2 linked regions of the Homo sapiens genome follow. The protein of the gene in region 1 purifies or fractionates together with the protein of each later gene. This does not show direct contact. Each region holds a gene or a part of one and is shown in the gene's direction. Other genes may lie near its edges.

The links.
Region 2: the proteins of ISL2 (region 1) and BCL9 purify together in Homo sapiens (affinity purification with mass spectrometry; 2 studies listed by BioGRID and IntAct, with this or other methods). This does not show direct contact.

The regions. Positions count from the first base shown.
Region 1 is NC_000015.10:76,339,773-76,343,278, forward strand, and holds the end of ISL2 (insulin gene enhancer protein ISL-2), read left to right. Parts: intron 1-503; coding exon 504-787; intron 788-1,361; coding exon 1,362-1,529; intron 1,530-1,946; coding exon 1,947-2,063; 3' UTR 2,064-2,703; downstream 2,704-3,506. Other genes in the region: uncharacterized protein LOC124903532, read right to left, coding at 3,008-3,506. UniProt on the Homo sapiens protein: Transcriptional factor that defines subclasses of motoneurons that segregate into columns in the spinal cord and select distinct axon pathways.
Region 2 is NC_000001.11:147,621,349-147,626,867, forward strand, and holds the end of BCL9 (B-cell CLL/lymphoma 9 protein), read left to right. Parts: intron 1-922; coding exon 923-1,183; intron 1,184-2,493; coding exon 2,494-3,611; 3' UTR 3,612-4,868; downstream 4,869-5,519. UniProt on the Homo sapiens protein: Involved in signal transduction through the Wnt pathway. Promotes beta-catenin's transcriptional activity.

The DNA.
Region 1 (3,506 bases):
CTCTGAAGGAGGGGAAGGGCCCTCGTAGGCCCCCGGCATATTCGCACCTCCCACCCAGTCCCCTGGGCAGCGCCTCGCCCTGGGTCCACGTCGGTCCCTTTCCCTCTCCAGAGTCCTGGGCAAGCCTCTTTCCTCTTCCTCTGAAACTCCGACTTCTTCCGGAGGGCTTCGCTCGTTCCGAGGGTCCTGCGACTGGAGGAGGCACATCCCTGAGCAGCCACTCCCTCCCCGCAGCGGCCTGTCGCCGAGCTCCCGCGCCCTGCTTGAGCTCGGGAGAGATCGCTGCGGGGCAGTCCGGCCCGGGAGCGAGAGAAAGAACGAAAATGCACAGCTCTCTCCGAGTAAGGCGAACAGATGGAGAGGAAGACGAACAATTAAACGAAACAAACAGAATAAAACAGAAACGAAATCGGGCCCCGGGGGGCTGGGCCACCCGGAGGTTGGGCTCGGGGCGGGTGGGTGGCGGCCCCTCGCTAACCTCTGGCCTCACCCTGTCCTGGCAGACGCTGGGTCGGGCCGGCAGCCCGCGTTGCGCCCGCACGTGCACAAGCAGACGGAGAAGACGACCCGCGTGCGGACTGTGCTGAACGAGAAGCAGCTGCACACTCTGCGGACCTGCTACGCCGCCAACCCGCGGCCCGACGCTCTCATGAAGGAGCAGCTGGTGGAGATGACCGGCCTGAGCCCGCGGGTCATCCGCGTCTGGTTCCAGAACAAGCGCTGCAAGGACAAGAAGAAATCCATTCTCATGAAGCAGCTGCAGCAGCAGCAGCACAGCGACAAGACGGTGAGCAGCCGCTGGGCCGGAGGCTCGAGTCGGGTGGGGGCTGCGCTTCCGCCGCGGTATCTGCGTGCCCTTTTCTGGGCGAGCCCTGGGAGATCCAGGGAGAACTGGGCGCTCCAGATGGTGTATGTCTGTACCTTCACAGCAAGGCTTCCCTTGGATTTGAGGCTTCCTATTTTGTCTGGGATCGGGGTTTCTCCTTGTCCCAGTGGCAGCCCCGCGTTGCGGGTTCCGGGCGCTGCGCGGAGCCCAAGGCTGCATGGCAGTGTGCAGCGCCCGCCAGTCGGGCTGGTGGGTTGTGCACTCCGTCGGCAGCTGCAGAAAGGTGGGAGTGCAGGTCTTGCCTTTCCTCACCGGGCGGTTGGCTTCCAGCACCGAGGCTGACCTATCGTGGCAAGTTTGCGGCCCCCGCAGATCCCCAGTGGAGAAAGAGGGCTCTTCCGATGCGATCGAGTGTGCGCCTCCCCGCAAAGCAATGCAGACCCTAAATCACTCAAGGCCTGGAGCTCCAGTCTCAAAGGTGGCAGAAAAGGCCAGACCTAACTCGAGCACCTACTGCCTTCTGCTTGCCCCGCAGAGCCTTCAGGGACTGACTGGGACGCCCCTGGTGGCGGGCAGTCCCATCCGCCATGAGAACGCCGTGCAGGGCAGCGCAGTGGAGGTGCAGACGTACCAGCCGCCGTGGAAGGCGCTCAGCGAGTTTGCCCTCCAGAGCGACCTGGACCAACCCGCCTTCCAACAGCTGGTGAGGCCCTGCCCTACCCGCCCCGACCTCGGGACTCTGCGGGTTGGGGATTTAGCCACTTAGCCTGGCAGAGAGGGGAGGGGGTGGCCTTGGGCTGAGGGGCTGGGTACAGCCCTAGGCGGTGGGGGAGGGGGAACAGTGGCGGGCTCTGAAACCTCACCTCGGCCCATTACGCGCCCTAAACCAGGTCTCCCTGGATTAAAGTGCTCACAAGAGAGGTCGCAGGATTAACCAACCCGCTCCCCCGCCCTAATCCCCCCCTCGTGCGCCTGGGGACCTGGCCTCCTTCTCCGCAGGGCTTGCTCTCAGCTGGCGGCCGGTCCCCAAGGGACACTTTCCGACTCGGAGCACGCGGCCCTGGAGCACCAGCTCGCGTGCCTCTTCACCTGCCTCTTCCCGGTGTTTCCGCCGCCCCAGGTCTCCTTCTCCGAGTCCGGCTCCCTAGGCAACTCCTCCGGCAGCGACGTGACCTCCCTGTCCTCGCAGCTCCCGGACACCCCCAACAGTATGGTGCCGAGTCCCGTGGAGACGTGAGGGGGACCCCTCCCTGCCAGCCCGCGGACCTCGCATGCTCCCTGCATGAGACTCACCCATGCTCAGGCCATTCCAGTTCCGAAAGCTCTCTCGCCTTCGTAATTATTCTATTGTTATTTATGAGAGAGTACCGAGAGACACGGTCTGGACAGCCCAAGGCGCCAGGATGCAACCTGCTTTCACCAGACTGCAGACCCCTGCTCCGAGGACTCTTAGTTTTTCAAAACCAGAATCTGGGACTTACCAGGGTTAGCTCTGCCCTCTCCTCTCCTCTCTACGTGGCCGCCGCTCTGTCTCTCCACGCCCCACCTGTGTCCCCATCTCGGCCGGCCCGGAGCTCGCCCACGCGGACCCCCGCCCTGCCCCAGCTCAGCGCTCCCTGGCGGCTTCGCCCGGGCTCCTAGCGGGGAAAAGGAAGGGGATAACTCAGAGGAACAGACACTCAAACTCCCAAAGCGCATGATTGCTGGGAAACAGTAGAAACCAGACTTGCCTTGAAAGTGTTTAAGTTATTCGACGGAGGACAGAGTATGTGAGCCTTTGCCGAACAAACAAACGTAAGTTATTGTTATTTATTGTGAGAACAGCCAGTTCATAGTGGGACTTGTATTTTGATCTTAATAAAAAATAATAACCCGGGGCGACGCCACTCCTCTGTGCTGTTGGCGCGGCGGGAGGGCCGGCGGAGGCCAGTTCAGGGGTCAGGCTGGCGTCGGCTGCCGGGGCTCCGCGTGCTGCGGGCGGGGCGGGCCCGGTGGGGATTGGGCGCGGCCGAGGGGGTGGGGCTGGGCGCATGCGCGCTGAGGGCCCTCCCAGAAGCAGGAGCGCCCCATTGGCGACCCCTGGGCACCTGGCGGCCCAGGCCCGCGGGCAGGAGGCGGGACCCGTTTGGGCGGGAAACCTGCGGCACTTGTGGCGGTTGAGCGGCGGACTCCGGCCTAGGGTTATGCGGGCGAGGGCGCGCCCCGCTCCCGGAACCAGCCTTGGCCTGGCGCCTGCCGAGCCCCGAGCCCCACTCTCGCTCGGCGCCGCGGGCCCTCCCGGCGCTTCCTTCCCCAGCGGTCCGCGGCCCTGGGTGAGGCTCGAAGCCCCGCGCGCTGCCCCTGGCCCTGCAGCACAGCAGTGAGGCCAACCCCGGCCAGAGCGGGCGGCCGTGACGGGCCGTGCCCCGCGCTGTCCCCGGAGTGGATGCGCGACGTGATCAATCCGCGGCATTTATTAATTCCACAGTCTAGACAGAGGCGGGGGCCGGGCGGCGGCTGCTTATCTGCGTTTGGCATCACCTGCAAGCGATACACCGAGGGGCCGCAACGAGCCCCCGCTAGGAGCGCGGCTGCCGGGAAAATAAGTCCACCCAGAACCAGTCTGGCGTGTCCTTGGTTTATTTTCTTTCCAGACCGAAGTGGAGGGGGTCGGGGGTGGCCCGGGTGGGAGGGAGCTGGG
Region 2 (5,519 bases), on another chromosome or scaffold:
TAAAATGTCTTAACAGTGGATGAATGTGGCTTCTTTAAATACTGGACCCACTGCAAGGGGCTGCCCTTGAATCGAGATTCTGGGTATAATCCTAAGCAGAGAGAGGGGAAGCTGCTGTAAGACTTGTGTGGTTCTTGTAAATACCTGTTGACCACAGAAACAGTTCCAAAATCTTCTCCTTGATAGACCACTGTTTTCACAGATCAGCTACAATTTAGGAGGATTTTCTTCCTGGGAGAGATTCTTGCTGATGATGATGGTTTTGTGAGTGGGACTAGAGGTGGTCAGTGGAAGTAGTGCCAAGGTGTAAATACTAGGTTGGTGCTGTCTCCACCTGAGAAAGACTAGAATCAGAGCAAGATAGAAGATTTATCCTACCAGCCTAAAGTGCCTCTCTGTAGGGTAGCAGTTCACTGAAGCAGTACAGTGGAACAGCCCCCTCAGACCTTCTTGGTTCAAACATCTTGGTTGTGGAAATTAATCAAGAATGCGTGTAGGGTGATGTCGTTAGTACCTGGGATCATATCACTAGTCTGGCTTCATAGCATACTAATACCTGAGTCGAATTCTAAACTGTGATTGGCAAGGGAAAGAGATCCACTTATTTCACATTCTATTCAGTGAAATGGTTGTCTGTAAACCATATTTTCCCCAAGCTTGAACTAATATTTCTAACACATTCCTGGTGTGTTTGTCTTCACATCTGCTGATCGGTCATGTCACCTCCATATCACACCACAGTCTCCCTCTGCACTCACACAGAGCTTGACTAGAAGATTGATGATTTGTGTCTGGGATCTAATAACACTGTCCTGTTCATCTGTCTCATTCCTGGCCTTGCTAGTTCATAATCATAGGGCCCAATACCCTTCAAAAGGAATCTAATTCCCTGCCCGTTTTGTTTTATTTTGCTTCCTTTTAGGTGGCCCCCCACCTCCTACAGCCAGCCAGCCTGCCTCTGTGAATATCCCTGGAAGTCTTCCCTCTAGTACACCTTATACCATGCCTCCAGAGCCAACCCTTTCCCAGAACCCACTCTCTATTATGATGTCTCGAATGTCCAAGTTTGCAATGCCCAGTTCCACCCCGTTATACCATGATGCTATCAAGACTGTGGCCAGCTCAGATGACGACTCCCCTCCAGCTCGTTCTCCCAACTTGCCATCAATGAATAATATGCCAGGTAAGAAATCAGAAAGGCAGGTTGTGGAGTGAGTGCTAGACCAAAGAGAAACCTCTTGAAGCGTTTTCTCAATGGCTATACACCTGAATAGGTGGAAGTTCAACAAGTAGAAAAAATCTTCCATCTAAGGTAGTTTCAGTAGAATGAAAGTGTCTTGACTAGAGGAAGATAATTTCTTATTAGCTTGATTCCTTATTTGTTTGTAAGAAAGCAGGTTTCTTTATAGTTCTGATGCTTCTGTGTACCTGGATGGTTTTGAGGGTTTGTTGTTTTTGTTTTTCTCTTTGGGTCCTCATGTAGCAATATAGAGAGTAGTTTCTAACAGGCTGATTGGAATGTCTTTAGTCCTCAAGTTTTTTTTTCTGGAAGAGCAGCCTCAAACCACAAGCAGCCACAGGATTTCAGACAGTGGAAAGCCCCTGTTTCCTAGACAAGCCTTTTTTTTTTTAGGACTAGGGAGATAATAAAATCCTTCCCTTCCCTACACATTCGGTACACCTTCATTCCTATACCCACCCCTCACCTCGACTCCTGCCACCTGACTAACAGAAAATGATCAGGATGGTGAAAGCAATCAGCAAAGAGACCATGACTTTTCAGCCATGAGTTTCTGGTTCCAGTTCTATTCTGATTGTTACAAATGCTCTTTATTTATCAGTAACTCTAATTAACTGGGTTAGTACATGTACCAGGAACAGCATAAGCCCCCTGCCACACTCGGTGGTAATTCCAACAGAGACACCAAATACTTCAATGTCCCAGGGACTGTATTAGAATATGTTACTTTCCTTTTCTATTAAAAGTTATTTCTTGAACATTTCGTGGAATCTCGAGTTTTAAATGCTTTCTCTATAAGGCACTTATAAAATAATGCCAAATGCCAATTGAAAAATTACCTGTTTAGTTTCTTTGTTATGATTCCTGATCATTGGGATTGTAGTACTGATTTCTCCAAAAGGACCGTACTTGAGTCATTCAGGCAAATTGTTTTCTTCTGTATTAAATATCTCCAATGAGGAAGGCGAAACTCATTTGTGTGCTAATTTATAACTTTTCACACATGACAATTTCTCCCTTGCTATCTTCTACACACAGTTTAAGACTCAATAATATATTGTCCTGTAGAGCTCTTGGTTTGTATGTCCCCAGATGTATTATGATCTTATTGATGGCAGGGATTGTGTGTTGTATGTTTTCCCAGCATTATACTATGCACATTGGATGCACAATAGTTTTTTTGTTAATTTATTATAGTTTTTCTGAGTTGATTTTTGGTTAAGTTGATTCCTTTGATATCTTTATTTTTCTAGGAATGGGCATTAATACACAGAATCCTCGAATTTCAGGTCCAAACCCCGTGGTTCCGATGCCAACCCTCAGCCCAATGGGAATGACCCAGCCACTTTCTCACTCCAATCAGATGCCCTCTCCAAATGCCGTGGGACCCAACATACCTCCTCATGGGGTCCCAATGGGGCCTGGCTTGATGTCACACAATCCTATCATGGGGCATGGGTCCCAGGAGCCACCGATGGTACCTCAAGGACGGATGGGCTTCCCCCAGGGCTTCCCTCCAGTACAGTCTCCCCCACAGCAGGTTCCATTCCCTCACAATGGCCCCAGTGGGGGGCAGGGCAGCTTCCCAGGAGGGATGGGTTTCCCAGGAGAAGGCCCCCTTGGCCGCCCCAGCAACCTGCCCCAAAGTTCAGCAGATGCAGCACTTTGCAAGCCTGGAGGCCCCGGGGGTCCTGACTCCTTCACTGTCCTGGGGAACAGCATGCCTTCGGTGTTTACAGACCCAGATCTGCAGGAGGTCATCCGACCTGGAGCCACCGGAATACCTGAGTTTGATCTATCCCGCATTATTCCATCTGAGAAGCCCAGCCAGACGCTGCAATATTTCCCTCGAGGGGAAGTTCCAGGCCGTAAACAGCCCCAGGGTCCTGGACCTGGGTTTTCACACATGCAGGGGATGATGGGCGAACAAGCCCCCAGAATGGGACTAGCATTACCTGGCATGGGAGGTCCAGGGCCAGTGGGAACTCCGGACATCCCTCTTGGTACAGCTCCATCCATGCCAGGCCACAACCCCATGAGACCACCAGCCTTTCTCCAACAAGGCATGATGGGACCTCACCATCGGATGATGTCACCAGCACAATCTACAATGCCCGGCCAGCCCACCCTGATGAGCAATCCAGCTGCTGCCGTGGGCATGATTCCTGGCAAGGATCGGGGGCCTGCCGGGCTCTACACCCACCCTGGGCCTGTGGGCTCTCCAGGCATGATGATGTCCATGCAGGGCATGATGGGACCCCAACAGAACATCATGATCCCCCCACAGATGAGGCCCCGGGGCATGGCTGCTGACGTGGGCATGGGTGGATTTAGCCAAGGACCTGGCAACCCAGGAAACATGATGTTTTAAGCTGCTAAGATGGGATGTGCCGATCCTTGTCAAGATGAGATTCCAGGTCCTGAGAGCTGCTTTGAGGGAGTTCCAGGAGTACTTACTATTGGTCATGCAATAGGAGAACAGAGACCCGAGGGCTGCTTTGGGGGAGGGGGGAACTCGAGAATGTATGGATTTACCTGAAAACAAATTATTCATTTAATCAACAGGTGTGTTTTTTTTAAGATTTATTTTTTAAAAATTATTTTTGTGGACTTGGGTATCAATGATGGCACCTACTTTTGGGAATCTGTAGCTGTGCTTTGAGAATTGCCATCGGTCATGTGTTGCACCGTTCTCTGTATGTTTACGTCCTTTGGACTGGCTTCTCCCAGGATTCTTTTCTGTTTTTGTTTTTTTGATTTGGGCTTTATTTTTTTCTGTGTACTGTACTATATTGTAAAAGGGATTTTAGCAGAGACTTTAGTCTTTGGGGCAAGAGGAGAACAGGAATGCTGGGCTGTTTACTTTAGGTGGAGAATCCATCTTCAGACCTTTGGACTATTTTCTTTCAACTGCAGTGTATAGAAAAACCAAACTACGACCTCAGAGCAGAGTATTAATGAAAAGCACAAAAAAAGGAACTAAGTTCAGCGAGGGGTGGGGGGAGGGGGGAGATTTTTCTTTTGAAAAATAATGACTCTTAGGACATTTGTTTTTCAGTTCAAGTGCTCTTCAGCACTGTCTTGTCTCCCAATATACCAACCCACTGGCACATTTTTCTCTTGTTTTCTCTCTCCGATTTTGCTCTGTCTCCTCAGTTAAGTGTTTCCTTCCTTTGTGCCCCCCGCTGGTGACCCTCTGCTTCCCTCTCTCTTTCCCTTTGGCAGCTGCAATACACAGTGTTATTTTGGGGAAATAAATCTAGCAAAGCCTCGCCTTCCATGCCGAGCGTCCTCTTGGCTCTGAGAGGGAAAGGTCTGTCCTTGGGATGCTCTCTGGTCTTTTTTCCCCCTAAGTCTTTCTCTTTCCCATCATACCCTTCCCTGCCCACCTTGTTTTCTGTTCTCCTTTTATTAGGAATTCCCAAGTGAATTTTATTAATGTGGGAGTGGAACAGATGCTAAAAGCTATCCAGGATTTTGTTTCTGTTTGTTTTAAATTTTGTGGTTCCTTCCCTTTCCTCCCCCTCCCATGCGTAAGACGTTCTGTGTAACCTCCATTAAATTTGGTACAAAACCACTCGCCAGAGCTGTGGTGTCAGAAAAATAAAATATATTGTTTCTTACAAAATTGAACTGCCTTTTTTGTTCATTTGGATTCCTGATTGTTTAGTATTGGGCATACCGGTTGCCATGTGACCCAGAAGCGTAGACTCTTTGTATTGGAGTTGATCAGTAAGGTGATGGTTAGGGAAACCACATAAAAGTACCTTCTCAAAGCATATTCCATGCTGTTAAGGAATAACTACTCATGTAGGTTTATTCTGTACTGTTCCTATCTCAGTCATGAAATCCTAGTTATAAGCAGAAGAGCAACCCTGGTCCCATTGCTGAACTTTACCTTTAGGGCAATTAATGGTCTTTATTAGGAATGTTTGTGAGAGCCAGTTTAGTGGTATGAAGTAATTAAGAAGGCCAAAGGTTGTATGTTTAGTTATTTGAATAAGCTATGAGATGTCCCTTGGTCTTGTTAAGGTAGAATATTATTACTATACCTGCAAATTATGGGTTTCCACAGTCCGTGGGTTTCTGTGGTCCTTTCTGGCTCCCCACCTCCCCCTTACCCCATCACCTCTGCTAACGCTGCTCAGTCTTTGTGCACAGTTCACTTCTCACCACACACATCTTCAGCAGATCAGTGTGTATCCTGCAAGGTATGTGCTAATGGACTTGCTGTTGTGCTTCTGTGCAGTTAATTCTGTTCTGGTGTGTGTATTTCTTT